Linked DNA regions of Homo sapiens. The gene in region 2 interacts genetically with the main gene of each other region. Each region holds a gene or a part of one and is shown on either strand. Other genes may lie near its edges.

Evidence for each region. Genes that interact genetically often act in the same process or in processes that back each other up.
Region 1: changes in CPSF1 (region 2) and FBXW7 are lethal when combined (synthetic lethality), as found in Homo sapiens cells (one study listed by BioGRID).

The regions. Positions count from the first base shown.
Region 1 is NC_000004.12:152,528,741-152,533,092, forward strand, and holds part of FBXW7 (F-box/WD repeat-containing protein 7), read right to left. Parts: intron 2,111-4,352; exon of another isoform or gene 1-2,110. UniProt on the Homo sapiens protein: Substrate recognition component of a SCF (SKP1-CUL1-F-box protein) E3 ubiquitin-protein ligase complex which mediates the ubiquitination and subsequent proteasomal degradation of target proteins.
Region 2 is NC_000008.11:144,395,121-144,400,127, forward strand, and holds part of CPSF1 (cleavage and polyadenylation specificity factor subunit 1), read right to left. Parts: exon of another isoform or gene 4,966-5,007; coding exon 4,872-4,965; intron 4,749-4,871; coding exon 4,661-4,748; intron 4,591-4,660; coding exon 4,468-4,590; intron 4,384-4,467; coding exon 4,332-4,383; intron 4,254-4,331; coding exon 4,156-4,253; intron 4,083-4,155; coding exon 4,008-4,082; intron 3,919-4,007; coding exon 3,838-3,918; intron 3,749-3,837; coding exon 3,659-3,748; intron 3,519-3,658; coding exon 3,405-3,518; intron 3,324-3,404; coding exon 3,182-3,323; intron 3,111-3,181; exon of another isoform or gene 3,069-3,110; intron 3,013-3,068; coding exon 2,834-3,012; intron 2,760-2,833; coding exon 2,623-2,759; intron 2,542-2,622; coding exon 2,367-2,541; intron 2,294-2,366; coding exon 2,087-2,293; intron 1,810-2,086; coding exon 1,720-1,809; intron 1,622-1,719; coding exon 1,478-1,621; intron 1,381-1,477; coding exon 1,228-1,380; intron 432-1,227; coding exon 315-431; intron 236-314; coding exon 145-235; and 2 more. UniProt on the Homo sapiens protein: Component of the cleavage and polyadenylation specificity factor (CPSF) complex that plays a key role in pre-mRNA 3'-end formation, recognizing the AAUAAA signal sequence and interacting with poly(A) polymerase and other factors to bring about cleavage and poly(A) addition.

The DNA of each region.
Region 1 (4,352 bases), on a different chromosome or scaffold from region 2:
AAGGTATCATGAGGAAGTACCAAGGAGGTATCATCAGAAAGCAGCAAAAACATAAAAGTACATTAAGACATAAAACAGGATATTAAGTGATATTAAAAATATTTTGTAAGGTCTTTTAATATTGCCTAAATTCCAGAGCAGTCATGCAGAAATGAACATCTAGCACAATACGCTAGGTATATCTACACATACATACTTTGTGTGTGTGTGTGTGTGTGTACATTTTCCCCCATTATACTTAATGGGGGAAAGTCTAAGAACAGGACAAATTAACAGCAAGAATTCATTATTTAACAGCAACTTTACTCATCTTTTTGTAATGACAATTCAGTTACACTAAAAACATACACATTTTTCCCTGGTCCACTCAAAGTATCAACAAACTGGAATAATTTCTGTTTGGAGTATTTGCAGATAGAAGATGCACACCTTGTGTCTTTTAAATTGCCACTCATCCTTAGGCTTGGGACAATGATAAAATTACTTGAAAAGACAAAAATTAAAAGATTTTTTAAAATAATAAGGAAATAATCCTTTCCAAATAAATAGGGAAAGCAACTTTATAGTGACCTTCTAAAAGATGTACTAACATTGTCAGATTATATACTCTTTTTTTAAAAGGAAGAAGAAAAATTAAAAAGTAAATTGTTAGTTCAATTTAAGTAACAATATGTAGAAATACTACATATAAACTAAAAGCAGGTTTCAAACTAACTAAAAAGTGATCATTATTGCAAGAGTAATCTCCACCCCTGCCATAAACAAGGGAATCCTAAAATAAATAGGATTTATGAAACTAAATATACCATCATCCAATGTTGGTATCTGCTGACATATGAAACAAATATTTTAATATTAACTGTAATGTAAAATTGCACAAAGTGAATTACACTTTCTGAACAACACATGTGAGAAAGATTCACTCTTAAAAATATAGCAATGCTGGCCAGGTGTGGTGGCTCACGCCTGCAATCCCAGCACTGAGGGAGGTCGAGGTAGATGGATTACCTGAGCTCAGGAGTTAAGAGACCAGCCTGGGCAACATGATGCATGGCCTTTGGGGTTACCTGGTGGGTGCTAAAACACACACACATATACCCTCGAGGCTCTCTAATTCCCTATCAATCCAAAAGTTGTTACCCATCTCTATCAAAAATACAAAAAAATTAGTCGGGCATGGTGGCGCATGCCTGTGATCCCAGCCACTCGAGAGGCTGAGGTAGGAGGATGACTTGAGCCCAGGAGGTGGAGGTTGCAGTGAGCTGAGATCACACCACAGCACTCCAGCCTGGGTGACAGAATGAGACCCCGTCACAAAAAAAAAAAAAATACACACACACACACACACACACACACACACACGTGTATATATATACGTGTACATATATATATATACGTATATATATGTATATACATCAAAGCTTTTTAAAGTACACATTTAAATGATTTAAGTGATTTGTTAATATACACTAGTACTTGAAATTAACAAAACAAAAATTGCGATGTGTAATTCTACACACTGAATTAGCCACTGCAAGAGATTAAGACTTTAATAGATAGCAGTATCAAACTTTAATGCTCTTATAATTTGACTCATATTATTCAAACCAACCATAGACACTTCTAATTTTACACACGAAGTAAATGCTTTACATTTATTTTCAGAAGGTTTCAAAAGTATGCCCACAAGCTTCTTTACAGATACTTTTGGCCATGATACAAAGCCAGTATATCACTAAATGCCAACTGTGGTTATCTTTAGATAAGAAATGCAGGTAGTCCCTACTTTTTAGCTGCATCCCTTTAAAGATGGTATCACCCCGACCCTCAATCCATAGTTTTCATCACCATGAAGGCAAAAGTATTTTGTACAGTAGAGTATGTGCTTTATGCAGAATCATTTTAAATGAACTCAGAGAAAAACATCTCATCTAGAAAACAAAGACCACCAAAAATAGCCAGTCCTGGCTTTGTAGTGTAATAAAGCTCATACTGTTTGTTGGTGGATTTGGCAGTTGTCTATACCAGGAGTCCAAAAACTTCGGCCTATGGGCCAATTGGAGCACGGCAACATTCATTCACTTCCTTGTTGTCTACAGCTGCTTTCACACTATAAGAACAGAATTGAAAGTTGTGACAGATCATGTGGCCTGTAAAACCTAAAATATTTACTAACTGGCCCTTTACAAAAATAGTTTGCCAACTCTTTCTCTACACAATGAGATGTCAGAAGCACCAGAAGACTTCTCCAAGAACCATCTCCAAAGTACAATGAAATGAGCCTATGCATGGCCTTTGGGGTCATCTGGTGGGTGCTAAAACACACACACACACACAAACATATACCCTCAAGGCTCTCTAATTCCCTATCAATCCAAAAGTTGCCAAGGCAAAGTACATGAAGTTACCACTCTTCCCACTGTCCTCACTAGTAAATAACATTAACTATAAGTGGCTGCCTTCTAAAATTCATCTGAACATGGCTTCGACTGCACAAAAAATGTTGTGGAAAGTGGAGGATGACAAGAGAAGGCCTCCATATGGCATATAATCCAATCCCTATATTTTCACCCTAGAATCACCTTAGACCTATCTCCTTGTTGAAACATCTCTTCCCCAGAGTTTCTGCCATTTGAATAATCACTGTTAAGAAGTCAGAGAAGCTACTAGGAAGGTGCAGAATTCCAACTAAGGAACACAAAAAAGTGTGAATATATATTTCCTTCCTCACAATCCTTAATCCTGTTAAAGTCAATACTAAATGCAAGCCGCAAAAATGTCTACATTTTTTTAAATGCCAAGTTGCTTTTTTTTAATAAAAAGTTTAAAAGGAAAAAAAAAAAAAAAGCATGTTCAGCACTACTGTGCCTACACAGGGATATCCCCTCCATTGTATGGGACACAAAGACACACACCAACTGTGAACAAGGGAAGCAGCCTTCTCTGTCAGCTATTTTTGGCCTCACTTCGTCATATCAAGACCAAACGTAGGATAATAATGCACAGTGAACTTTAAAACATGAATTTGAGGAAACAAATCTGTCCTTCTATTTATAAATTCCTTAACAATGAAATTATTATTAAGTATACTCTTCTGAACTTAATCTCAAGGGACCTATATACCCTATTTAAAAAAAAAAAAAAATTTTAGCTTGTTTCAAAAATACAGAATAATATACCCTGGGACTAAACTGGTGGCCATGTTTAAAGCCTGCTCATTCCTTTTTAACTTCAACTCTTATCCACTTCTAAAACATCTATTTTAGGTAGTGTCTCATTCATTCAGATTTTCCCCCTAACTAAAAATACCCACTTTTCAGCTCTTCACTTTCCATCAGTACTCTGGGAAACCTAAATACTTTGAAAATAATTCCAACTTTACATTTTCAGTATATTACCTGCTAAACTATTTTGCTGTTTTGAAACTGCACCAGTATCCAATTGTTGCCCTAAAATTTCACATCCAAAGCAAAGTCTACTGTCCCATTTCTAAACTCTTTTTTGTAAGAAGCCACTTTCAACACACTAAGCATCTTCTTTTTCACTCCTCCTTCTGTATAGCCCTGGATAGCCACGATATAATAAAAATGTTGGTTCCCTAGAAAAACAAAATCCTAATCCAGGCATACAGCTTTTACCTAAAATGTAATTTCTCCCCAGTCATCTGAAATTACTCTCAGGAACACTCTTCTCAGTTGCTTCTTTGAACTGTAATCATGTGTCTACACAAACACAACTGACCCTAACACTACTCAACAACCTCTATCTGTATTCCCTTCAAACCAGCTTCGTAATTTTATCTGTCCCTTATGCCTTTCAATTCCAAAAGTCTTAAATATTGTGTCTCCACTTGCTCTTTTCTTCCTAAAAGAAACCTTCCCAGATTTGGCTTCAATACTTCAATTAGTTCTATATGTACACGTCCAAAAGCAACATTTCCCTAGTGAAAAATGTAAAAATATATTCACATCTATAAGTTGACAATATCTAACATCCAGTGCGGTCTTAGATAAATATTGGTCTATCCCCCCTCTCCTATAGCTTTGTGCAATTTGTGTTTGATTGTCTCCACCACCTACAAGTAAAAGCATCTCAAAGGCAGGGACCCCAAAAACTTTGTCATTTCTACCCAAACGTGCAATAAAACATTACCATAATTTTTTGGCAGGACGCGGTGTCTCAACGCCTGTAATCCCAGCACTTTGGGAGGCCGAGGTGGGCAGATCATTTGAGGTCAGGAGTTCTAGACCAGCCTGACCCACATGGTGAAACCCCATCTCTACTAAAAATACAAAAAAAATTAGCCAGGCGTGGTAGCACATGCCTGTAGTCCCAGCTATTTGGGAGGCTGA
Region 2 (5,007 bases):
GCTGACCGGGGAGATGAGCTGGATGGAGAAGGCCTCCTGCTGGGGGTGGATGTACCGCTCATCTGTGGGGACCAAGGGTGACAGTCAGAGTAGGGCTTCCCCAAGATGCGGCTGAGGATGGGAGTATGGTGTGGGCGTCACCACCTCTCTCGATGGTCTCAAACTCCTTCTCCTCGCCAGTCATGCGTGGGATGCGGGCACACGGCGTGTTGGTGCTGGTGGCCACAGCATACACCTGTGGGTTAGTGAGGGTCACACACCAGTGGCCCGGCCAGGCCCAGAAGGTCCCTGGTGGGGTGGGGGTGGGGGCAGACCTTAGACTCCACGTGGTAAGCCACATAGTGGGCCGTGCAGCGCAGCGGGATCTTCCTGACAGGCCATGGGGCATCATAGGACAGGTAGGCAGGCAGGACACTGATCCTCAGCTCGCCCTGGGGTGGGGGCACAGGGGTCAGGGGATCCAGGGCTAGCCAAGGGCAGGGGCAGGCAGGCCCAGGCCGCCAAGAGCCCTGGGATGTTGCCCTCAGCTCTGTGGGAGCAGGGGTGGGTGAGGGGCAGCTGTGTCCTGGCGAGGTCCTGGAAGGGGCTGCCACTCAGCCTCTGGGGCTCCTCCTGTCCATTTTCCCACGCTCAGCTGGGGCTAGGGGTGCTGGCCACAGGGGATGGGAAAGCTAGGCCAGGAGGGCACTGGAGGCTGCAAAGGGCAGCCCACAGACTGCCATGCTGGGGACTGAAAACCAGGCAGAGGGAGCCAGGGCTGCCCTCTTTCATGGACAGTCCTGAGTCCTCAGGCACCCAGGAAGCACTCACCGCATCCCAGGCAGGGTCTCAAGTGACCTGGTGGTGTGGTGGCTTAAATAGGGAACCAGGATGAGAAAGCCTGTGTGCCCTCCCAAAGTCACAGAGCAGCCAAGGGGCAGAGCTAGCACTCACGTCAGCTCTCCTGAGAAGTGTGGAGGCCAGGCCCTGCGAGGGCTTGCCCGGCGAGCCGGCAGAGCAGTGGTGGGGACCCCAGGGGCTGCAGCCCCAGCTCCCAACCACCCCTTTCCAGACCTTTGGAGCAACCAAGTCACAGGTTCCACCTCCTCGACCTCAACCCCATCGCCCTCTGGACACTCCTTCCTGGTCCTCAGGGTGGAGCCAATGGTCCCTTCTCCTGTCCCCTCCCCCTCAGCCCCCAGCTGGGGCAGCATCAGCCAGTGCTGCTGGGAACCGGCCGGGCCCCACCTGTCTGTTGAAGTACAGGAAGCCGCGGGGACAGTTGACATTGTGGAATGGAGCGAAAGAGTCGACCGGGCCGTCGATGGCCATGGGGTGTAGCCGCAGAGCCCCTCGGCCGGTCACCAAGAGCCAGTGAGGGGAGGGGCCGCAGATGAAGACCTGGGGGCAGGCACCGTGAGGATGCTGTGGATGAGGATGCTGCGGATGAGGCCGCGTCTCCCTTCTACCACAGACCCCTGCAAAGGCGCTGGCCTACCCCTGAGTAGCCATAAATATCCTCGAAGTAGCGGAAACGCGCCACGCGGCCCCGGGCCCCAGCCCCCTCCTCTGCGCCGCCACCTTCTGCTTTCTTCTTGGATGGCTTTGGCTTCTTCTCACGGAAGTTGATGTTGTGAGGGACCTGGGGGGGAACCATGCAGGTCCTCCAGGGGCTGCCGGTCTGAAACCCACACCTTGTACCACACCCACCCCACGCCCCAGCAGTCCAGCCACTGGCACCTTCTTAAAGCGGACTTTGAGATTGCCCTGGCCGAGCTGAGAGTCGTGGGGGAAGGCCTCGTAGATAAGCAGCTCTTGGTCCACATGCACCTGGCAGGATGAGGGGAGCCATGGGGGAACGGGCAGGGCCATGGAGAACATGGGATGGGCCATGGGAAGAGGTGGGCTGTGGGTAAGGGGCGGGGCTGAGATGGGGTGGAGCCATGTATGGGAAGGGGCGGGGCTGTGAGGGAGATGGGGTGGAGCCACGGGAAGGGGCGGGGCCGTGGGGGAGATGGGGTGGAGCCACGGGAAGGGGCGGGGCTGTGGGGGAACGGGCAGGGCCAGGGGGAAGATGGGAAGGGGAGGCCAGGCCAGGCGCACTCACCAGCAGGTAGGGCCTGCTCTGGCGGCTGCCCAGCGCCACCAGCAGCACCTCCTTGACGAGGGGCAGCTCCCCCTGGCGCGTGGCCTCCTCCCTGCGGGCCTCGCCCTGTGTAGTGGGCTGTCCAAAGGAGCTGTCCACAAGGACCCGCTGCCCCACAGGGAAGTTCTTCACCAGGAACACCAGCCGCCAGTCGGGAAGCTGGTAGATCTGCAGGGTGGGCAGCAGTCAGTGGAGGCAGGTGGGTGGAACCCGCTGGGCCACAGTGCAGGGCACCACCTACCTCCATGGTGCCATTCTCCCGCACCAGCAGGCACCAGTGGGTAGGCTCTGCCCGGAAGGGTGCAGGGTCCCGGTCAGCAGGGGGCTGGCTGCTTCTTCGGGCCTCCTCCTTGCTGGGGCTGAAGAGGGAGCCCGAATCCCCATACAGCATCTCCTCCTCGTCATCCACTGTGGGGCTGGGGGCCAGCAGAAGGTCATGGGCGGCCTGCCAGCCCCAGGGACCCAAGCCCCTACCTGCGCCCCCAGCCCCCACGCACCTAGTCTCTGAGCCCAGGCCCTCGGCCTCCGGGCCACTGCGGCCCCCGAGCTCGTCACGGGCCCCACCCAGGCGGCTCTCAGTGGTGAACATGCCGCTGAGGTCTCGGTACAGGCACAGCGTAATCACCTTGGACTGCTGCGGGGAGAGGGGTGGGCTCAGCGGCGGGCAAGGGGCAGGGACAGGAGGGCGCCGGGAATGAGGGGGCCTACATGGTGCAGCGGGGGCTTGTGCAGCGCCAGGCGGTGGTGGCGGCCACCGTAGGAGTCACTCTTCAGCAGGAACATGGTGACGTGGCCCTCGGCACTCATGATGACCACATAGGGGTCGGCCACGGCGCACTGCACGATGGGGGCGCCCAGGTCCACGGGGATGAAGTGCAGCTGATTCACTGTAGGCATGGGGCAGTCAGCATGCGCCTCCCCACCACCGTCCCCACCCACCTACCTCCTTCCAGCAGGCGGATGCCCAGGGCCCAACCACCTCCCCCCCACCGTCCCCACCCACCTACCTCCTTCCAGCAGGCAGATGCCCAGGGCCCAACCACCCCCCCCACCTACCTCCTTCCAGCAGGCGGATGCCCAGTGGTGACACTTGGACAATGTAGCGGTTGTCCCCGATGTTCCCAGCAAAGACCGTGGGGCCCTGAGTGGCGAAGCCACTGGTGTCCAGCTCCATGATCTCCTGCCCCGTCTGCAGGATCTGCGGGCGACAGCTGTGAGGGAGGCGCCCCCCGCAGGGGACCCCAGCCCCAGGTCCCAGGTCCCAGGCCCTGCCCCTCACCATGGTGGAGTCTTCCCGGCTCAGAATCAGGAATCCGTGTCTGCGGCCGTCGTCGTCTGCTTCAGGGGTGGTGCTGGGTTCCTGCTCTGTGCCCTCCCCCTTGGGATTGTCCTCCTGTCAGGGCCAAAGGGGGGCAGGCTGGAAGCCACAGTCCAGTGAAGGCAGGCACGCAGGTGCGACCTGGGCACCCCCGGCCTATGAGAAGGCAGCGCCGGTCCCATCCCAGGGCCTCCCTGCAGCAGGCTCGCACCTACCTCCTCCTTACGCACCGGGGCGATGACTGTCCACATGTCATAGCAGCCGGGAAGCTCAAAGGTTGTCACCACCTGGGGCCGGATGCTCTTCTAGAATGATGATGGGGTGGGGGTGTGATGGGGGTGTGAGCCCACCCAGGTCCCACCAGGAGGCGCCCGCCCCCTACCTGCCCACACACCTGCAGCACCGACAAAGCCCCGTTCTTCCCGTGGCCGGAGCAAACCACAATCTCCAGGTCCGGCTCGGGGCTGTTCTGAAACTGCACAGGACTCGGGGGTGAGGACTATGCCCCCCACCCCCCCTCACACTCCAGCCCCTGCCCCCAGCCCCGACCCCAACCCTGGGCACCTCTTCAGAGAGGAAGGCAGGCTCGCCCACGGCGGCATTGGCACAGGGTCCAATGTTCAGGATGCTGTCACACACCTGCGGCACAGCAAGAGTCAGGGGCCCGCTGGGGGCGCTGGCTGGGACGGGGGCCCTGCTGCCTCAATCTCACCTCAAAGGAGTAGGTGGCCAGCTGTGTTCCCGACTGGGCCTCGCTGCCGTACACTTCAATCTCGTCCACCTCATCCTGCGGCACCGACTTACCCGCAGCTGCACACAGAGAGCCCACTTGAGCGCAGCCCTGGGTCACCTGGCCCCGCTCCTGACCAGCCCTGGACCGGCCCTCACCTGACCAGCCGGCCGTCGCATCCACTCGCTTCTTCTTTGAGGGAGGCTCTTCCTGTGAGGCAGGAGGGGCACTGAGTGGCATGCCACAGCAGTGCCCACATGAAGGGTGGTGGCCCAATGGGCCCAGGAAACCCACCTTGTCGGCAGCCTCACGGACAGCACTGGCCGGGGGCTCCTGCAGCTTCTCCGTGTACTTGAGGAGGAGGGAATTGCCCAGGCGAGAACCCAGGAACAGGTACCCGGGCTCCATGGTGACCATCTGAGGGAGGGCAGGTGTGTGATGGCTGGGCCGGGTCTGGACCCAGACCCAACCCCTAGTCCCAACTCACGCTGGTGGTGAGGACGCTGGCGGCCGCCTTGTCAAAGTGGAACGCTCGGACACTGCGCATGCCGTCGGTGATGAGGGTCAGCACGTAGCTGGGGGCAGGGAGAATTCTGAGTCGGGGATGGGGACCCTGGGGGAGTGAAGGGGGCCAGGGGACCCTACAGGACTTGTGGGGGGCGGTGTGGGCAGAGTTCATGGGCGGGGGAGGGGCTCACATCTCGCCGCCCTTGAGGGAGATGACCATCTTGTCGTAGGAGATGAAGGTGGCCTGGGCGCAGTCCAGGGTGATCCGCACACCCTCCTGGGTGCCTGTGGGGTGGGTGGTCAGGCCGACTAGGCAGGCCCAAGCCG